Linked DNA regions of Homo sapiens. The protein of the gene in region 2 purifies or fractionates together with the protein of the main gene of each other region. This does not show direct contact. Each region holds a gene or a part of one and is shown on either strand. Other genes may lie near its edges.

Evidence for each region.
Region 1: the proteins of AMBN (region 2) and LRP2 purify together in Homo sapiens (affinity purification with mass spectrometry; 2 studies listed by BioGRID and IntAct, with this or other methods). This does not show direct contact.

The regions. Positions count from the first base shown.
Region 1 is NC_000002.12:169,352,521-169,356,347, reverse strand, and holds part of LRP2 (low-density lipoprotein receptor-related protein 2 precursor), read left to right. Parts: intron 1-3,827. UniProt on the Homo sapiens protein: Multiligand endocytic receptor. Acts together with CUBN to mediate endocytosis of high-density lipoproteins. Mediates receptor-mediated uptake of polybasic drugs such as aprotinin, aminoglycosides and polymyxin B.
Region 2 is NC_000004.12:70,594,984-70,598,810, reverse strand, and holds part of AMBN (ameloblastin precursor), read right to left. Parts: intron 1,813-3,827; coding exon 1,762-1,812; intron 456-1,761; coding exon 408-455; intron 1-407. UniProt on the Homo sapiens protein: Involved in the mineralization and structural organization of enamel.

The DNA.
Region 1 (3,827 bases), on a different chromosome or scaffold from region 2:
GGGTCTGAGAATGATGCACCTGTGCATGTTGTTACATCCTTACAGTGGCTACCACAACTTCACATGTTATTCAGTACTGTTATGTTGGTGAATGTCACAAAACTAAGTTAAACTGTCTGAGGCAAAAAAGGAAGGTTATTGAAATACATAGTTGAGGCTGGGTGTGGTGGCTCATGCCTATAAATCTCAGCACTTTGGGAGTCTGAGGTGAGCGGATTGCTTGAGCCTAGGAGTTTGAGACCAGCCTGGGCAACATAGTGAGACTCCATCTCTACAAAAAATACAAAAAATTAGCCAGGAATGGTGGTGTGCCCTTGTGGTCCCAGCTACTTGGGAGGCTGAGGTGAGATGATCGCTTGAGCCCAGGAGGTCGAGGCTACAGTGAGCTGTGATCATGCCACTGCACTCCAGCCTCAGCGACAGAGTGAGACCCTGTCTCAAAGAAAATAAATACATAGTTGAAAAGATACAGATAATTAGGTTGATCCATTTGAGATTGATTTTTTTTCCTATGCAGAAATAGTCAAATATTGGCAATTTCATTTGGTTCAACCTAATATAAAATGGAGGCTCAAACTATGTCAGGCCAATCTTGTCTTTTTTCCGTCTCCTGGCTCTGAGATGACTCCATTCTTAAACATGTTCTCCTTTGATGTAAAGCGGCTGTCAGTGGCTCTGGAGCCACCTCCTATCAGATCACATCCACTGGGAAAGAAAAAGAGTTTTTATCTTAGCTATTCCCAGCAAAAGTTTCAGTTGCATCTCAGGGTCTCTACTTAGGTCATAAACTCATTGGAGAACCAACCACTGAATCCCGGGTCATGATGTGTTCCCATGGCTTAGGCTTGGGCTGTATACTCAGTCTTTGAGATCATGTATGAAGGGGTGGAGTCCAGAGAGAAATGGGGGTAATTATTGGGAGAATGGTGAACAGAGGCTGGGATGCAAAAATAACAGGTGTTCAGTATACCTTATCAGATAAAATTGACTGACGATGTTATTTTCATTTTGTATGTGAAGACACACTTGAAAAAGCTACAGAAATTTCTCAAGAGCTGGCAGCCCTGGGGTAACTTACAGAATTGAAAGGAATAAAGTATTGGAAACATTAAGAAAAAAGACATGGTGATCTGTGCCCATGTGACCATGTTGCAACTTTAAGTTTAGAAGGAGAACAGGAGAAAGAAGGACTTTTAGAAGGTTTATTTGGATCCTAAAGTTTTCTTATTTGGAGCAGAGCTTTGTGATAGACAGGAAAGTTCTGGAAAATGAGCTGAGCGATCAGACTACAGGATCCCTTAAGTCTGGTGCAGTATTTCATTTTTCTGTGAATCTTAGGCTCCTACTCCTTTTCCAATTTACTTCACTCCAATGTTTATGTTCCTAAGAGTTTGTCTGTTTTCCAAGCACTAGTCCTTTGCTATAAGGATGGGGTAGAGAGAAAGAAGCTTAAAGAGTTTGCAGACAGGTTAAGATGCTTCTGTGGAGACAGAACACATCTTGGTGCACATCTGAGTGTCCTTAGCACTTCATCTATGGACTTCTTTCATAAATGGTAGAACACGTATCCATCACACCTTATTGGATTAATTCAGAAATGCCAGATATATGTACTCTTTGCTGATGGTTACTTTGTTGGTCTCTAATTTAAGTCTTATCTCTAATCACATTAGCTGAGAAAATGGAGACATTATCATTCTAAAAATAAGATGGTTAACTTTTATATTAGGACACTTCTGATTTAGGATAGCACTGAAATTCAGTGCAAAGAAATGTAAGTCTTTCCTAGATAATGACAGATTAGACAATTTGAAGTTTCACTTTTGGTCATTAGCCCTCAGGTCATGCCTGACCTCAAGGTTACTGGAAACAGTGAGAAATGAATGAAAGGAGGAAATGTAATTACCATTCTGTGCATTGAATAGTTGAGCCACTGTTACCATGGATACAATGGCGCATTTATTGTCCAGATCTTGAGATCCAAGTTTGTAAGCAATATCCAAGGTCTCCTTTAAATTTATGTACTATCAGCGAATAACACATGAAGATTCCTGGTAACTTTGAAAATAAGTCTTTCCTCACTGATCTACTGATTCACATTAAGTAAGAGCATGTGTACTTTTGAAGGTGTTGAGGAAACCTGAAAAAGACGAAAAGGAAAGTAGCTACACTTCTGTTATGCTGGACATTCTTGGATTCCTCTATAAAAATATTCTGTCTTATACTGTCAGTGATTTGCTTGTCACTTTGGGCCCAGTTCTTTGGTTTTTATGTCATTAACAAGGAGAAAATTTCCTGAGTAAAGGTTGAAAAAATCAAAATCGTTTATTTTTATTTTTTGAGACAAGGTCTTACTTTATCACCCAGGCCAGAGAGGGTCTCACTTTATCACTCAGGCTGGAGTGCATGGCTCCCTGCAGCCTCAACTTCCCAGGCTGAAGAGATCCTCTCCGCTTAACCCCACAAGAAGCTGGGACTACAGACACATACCAGCACTCACAGTTAATTTTTATATTTTTTGTAGAGATGAGGTTTCTCCATGTTGTTCAGGCTGGCCTCAAACCCCTGAGCTCAAGTGATCCTCCCGCCTCAGCTTCCCAAAGTGCTGGGATTATAGGCGCTAGCCACCATGCCCGGCTGAAATCATTTATTTTGTCAGGAAATTCTTAAAGTTGAATTTAAGAATGAAAGTATTTTATCAGAAATATGGCAATCCTACCCACATTTTAATCTCACTAGAAGGGGGGTGATACATGCTAGCATGTACTTCCACACTGGTTTAATTTTGATGTGGGGAAGGGTGTGGAGAATACTTTTTGTTGCAAGAAACAGAAAACCCAACTCAAAATGGCCTACACAATAAAGGGTATTTCTTGGCTTATGTGAGTAAAAAATACTGAGGCAGAGTGGGGTTCAGGCGAGGTGCAGTCAGGGCTCCAGTTCTCTTTCTTTGTGTTTTCCTTGACCCTACTCCCCCCTAAGTTTCACCTTTGTGTGCGGTCTGGCTTCCCATATGATTCTGATATGGCTGCCAGGGCAAATGGGGCTACGTGTTTCCTTGATCCTATCCAGGGGGAATCCAACTTTGAGAAGGTTTTAGTTATGTTCTCAAAAGTATTATTTCATCACAATAACTTACAGATTGTTAGAATTTCTAAGGACCCTAGACAAAGTCAGCTAGCTCCCCAAACTTGACATATCATCAAAATCACCTGAGGAACTTAAAAAAGTATAGAGATTCTTAAATCAAAACTCACCCTTACTAAAGCAGGGGTATGAAAATCTGTGTTTTTTAAAAATTTTATTTTATTTTACTTTCAGTTCTGGGATACATATGCAGAATGTGCAGGTTTGTTACATAGGTATACATGTGCCATGGTGGTTTGCTGTACCTATCAACCTTTCATCTAGGTTTTAAGGCTCACATGCATTAGGTATTTGTCCTAATGCTCTCCCTTCCCTTGGCCCCCACCCCCTGACAGGCCCCGGTGTGTGATGTTCCCCTCTCTGTGTGTGATGTTCCCCCCCCTGTGACCATGTGTTCTCATTGTTCATCTCCCACTTATGAGTGAGAACATGCGGTGTTTGGTTTTCTGTTCCTATGTTAGTTTGCTGAGAATGATGGCTTCCAGCGTCATTCATGTCCCTGCAAATGACATGAACTCATTCCTTTTTATGGCTGCATATTATTCCATGGTGCATATGTGCCACAACCAACCCAAATGCCCATCAGTGATAGACTAGATAAAGAAAATGTGGAAAATCTGTATTTTTAAAAGTTTCAAGGTGATTCTGAGGGCTGGACCAATTTTTGGGAACGTGTGATC
Region 2 (3,827 bases):
AGAGCGACACTCTGTCTAAATAAATAAATAAATAAATAAAAATAAAATAAGTAAATCAAATGGGTAGGTGAACTCTTCCTTTCAATGAACTTAAATTTCGTTTTGAGCTAGTCTGCAATATTTGCATAAATTGTTTGAGATTTAGCTTTTTAAGCACTTGTGTTTTGTGCCACATAATAAAATTAATAATGCAGGAAAAGATTCTTTTCTTAACTCAATAAAATTCAATATTGTTTTTGTTTTTCCCTGTCACTGTATCTTATTTTGTTTTAGGCTCTCATTTACTTCTTGGTTCTTCCAATCTTTAGTATATTGTCTATTCATAAATAAATTTGATGAATTATAATGCTGCTGCTAATATTAACACTACCACCACCATGAATACTTGCAATAAGAAATATGATTACCTGAGAAAGTGTGTTTAATCTCTGCAGACTTCCCAACTGTCTCATTGTCTATCAAGAAAAAAAAGTGGGTTACTGTTTATCGCATATGCTGTGTTTGACACAACTGATTTCTCATGATATTTGACATTATCAACACAAAGTTTGGTGTGAATCAATTTAATAAAATGAAAGTAGACACAAATCATCACTGAAAGGTGGAAATATTAAATTTGGTTCTGCCATTGTTATTATTATTGCTATTAAAATAATGCAGTTGCTTTTATCATTAATTAAAGGAGAAAAAGTATTATTTAAGTGGAGGTTACATTGAAACATGGGAAAATAGCTCATTCCATTGAAATATAAGTGTAATTGTGAGGACTTTGCTTCATTGACTCTTTCTCCCCATTTAATTTACTTTGCCCTTTACAAGTTCAGCCAGAAGAGGAATTTGAAACAAACAAACAAGACAAACAAATAAAACTTCTACCTCTTTCCCATAAAATAAATCTTTCAAAATATTAAAAATAAAAACTATTGAAAGAAATGTTAAGTATCTGGATAGATTATCGAGAATGCTACCATTTCAACAGAATGCCAATTTAACTTTTTTCACGGGAAGAGATTTAGAATGCTTTGGATTGAGTTTAAGCTAAAAAGTGAGAAAAAAACCCTCAGCGAAATTAGCTTCCATGTGAAATAAGCGTCTAGCTCAAATAGGTATTGACTGCCCCCAGCTTACCATGACACATGGAAATTTCACAAGACCTTGTGAAAAATTTATAATCTTATAAATATCTTTCTATATATAACTGTCAATATTTTTCATTGACATGACCAAAATTTCTGTTTTGCTGGAGTTTTCTAAACAGAATATATATTACATGAGAACTGCAATAAGACAAATACACTGTACAACTTATGCAGGAAGTATCATAGTACAATGTTAATGTTATTTACCAGACTTATAAAAAATTAAATTTTGTACAGGTACAAAATTTTTCATGAGAACTTTATCATGTAAGATAGTATAAGGAGCAGGATTAAAAATAAACTATTTGTGAGTATGGAGCAATGTATTTTAATTAAGGTAGTAATTTTATTAATGTGCATATTATATATAAGGCATTAAATACTAATATTGCTTTGGTTTGCATAGAAACAATGTTCTAAAACTTAAAACACCTGAGAGTTTAAAACTGCAGTAGAATTATAAGACAAAGCTCTAGTAAATGTCATAACTTTTCTAGCACTCCTCAGGATAACAGCCACAAACTTCTGGCTAGGAAAACTGAGAAGCACACGATTATATTTCTCCTGTACCACAAATATACCAATGTAAAGTTAATATGTTAAAAATTCTGACAATACATACCTCAAGGCTCAAACTAGCCATACCCGGTGTTCCAGATTGCTGAGGAAAGAACTGAATGAAAATAAGAATAATTTTGAGTCTTATTGGTACAAAACTTCCTTCAATGCCCATTGGGCGTAGGATATTGCTCCAGTACATACGGGCTACCTGAGAGGCCACCATTTTGGTTTATTATGCAAATGACTTGAGTGCTTGGGCAGAATGAAGAAGAGCATAAGTTATTTGGGAGAATCAACATAGTATTTGATAATTTTGCTCCCACCTGCATCATCTATCCTTTGTCTGCATCTTAATGCTTCATTGCTTTAAAAGCAAAATATGATTTAAAGTTACACACAAGGAGAAATAGAATAAAGCAACAAAATAGAAAACTACTAGTACTTTATTTTCTTTAAAAATTACCACAGAAAAAAGTAAAGGGGACAAACCCAAGCTGAATTTTCATGTGCTTTCGACAAATCTATATGATTTTGGTTTACAAGACATGGCATGGGATCATGACATTCAGAAAAATCATATGAAAAATCTAACTGGATTCCCATTCAAAGGGCTTCAGCAAATTCCCTATCATTTTTAGTGAAAGATTATTTTATGTGTAAACCTACTATACTTTGGGATCATATCAAAGGTTTTTTTCCCTTAAATAAAAAGCATTCTAGCACAAAATACTATTATACTTAATGTGTTCACTTAAAAGTTGTTCAAAAATATACCTATCTATACAATTAGCTTTTTAAAATGTAAGATATTTTCCTTTTTTTTTTTTTTTTGAGACTAAGTTTCACTGTGTCACCCAGGCTGGAGTGCAGTACCGTGATCTCGGCTCACTGCAACCTCTGCCTGCTGGGTTCAAGTGATTCTCCTCCCAAGTAGCTGGGATTACAGGTGTGCACCACCAAGCCCGGCTAATTTTTGTATTTTTGGTAGAGACAGAGTTTCACCATGTTGGCCAGGCTGGTCTTGAACTCCTGAGCTCAAGTGATCCGCCCACCTTAGCCTCCCAAAGTGCTGGGATTACAGATGTGAGCCACTGCATCTGGCTTCCTTTTTTAAAAAATAGAGATGGGGGTCTCACTATGTTGCCCAGGCTTGTCTTAAACTCCTGAGCTCAAGTAATCCTCCTGCCTTGGCCTCCCAAAGTGCCAGGATGATAGGCATGAGCCACCATGCCTAGCCTTTTCCTTTTGTTTTTTGTTTTTTTGTTAAATATATTTTTCTTTTGAAACCAATCCTTATTACTTTACACAAATACCGGTAGAAAACATGGCGAATGGAAGAGTAGGAATTAGAGTAAATTGGATTTTGAGAGTCTCTGGTTCTTTGGATATTCTCACTTTCTAAGACCAAGGGGTTGTAATGCCGTCTTTCCTTCAGTTATACCACAAGGATTTAGGGAATGTTTACCAAATATATCAGTATTATTTTTCCTTTATGAGTAAGAAGTTAAAGAATTACACCCCCTACTTTTTCCACCCACCACCTTTTTCATGTAAGTAAAATCCCACCTTCTGGGTCATAGTGAGAATTTCTTTAAATAATTCAGTTTTGGACAAGAATAGAGGGAAAGGGCCAGGCATGGTGGCTCAAGACTAATCCCGGAACTTTGGGAGGCTGAGGTGGGCAAATCATGAGGTCAGGAATTTGAGATCAGCCTGGCCAACATGGCGAAACCGCGTCTCTACAAAAATACAAAAATTAGCTGGGCGTGGTGACACGTGCCTGTAATCCCAGCTACTTGGGAGGCTGAGGCAGGAGAATCGCTTGAACCCAGAAGGAGGAGGTGGCAGTGAGCTGAGATCTCAGCATTGCACTCCAGCCCGGGCAACAGAGCCAGACTGTAAAAAAAAAAAAAAAAAAAAGAATAGAGGGAAAGGCATTACAAATGTGTAGCAAATACTCTGGGTAGGAAAGAGGTTAGCTGTGTAGACAGGAAGAGTGATTGTGCATGTATGTGTGTATGTGGTGGTTAGCTTGTTGAGAATTTGGGGGAATCGTGAGAGCAGGACCTTCTTCCCCACTATTTGCCAGTGCATAAATAACACATCCTGGATTGAGCCACAGAACAA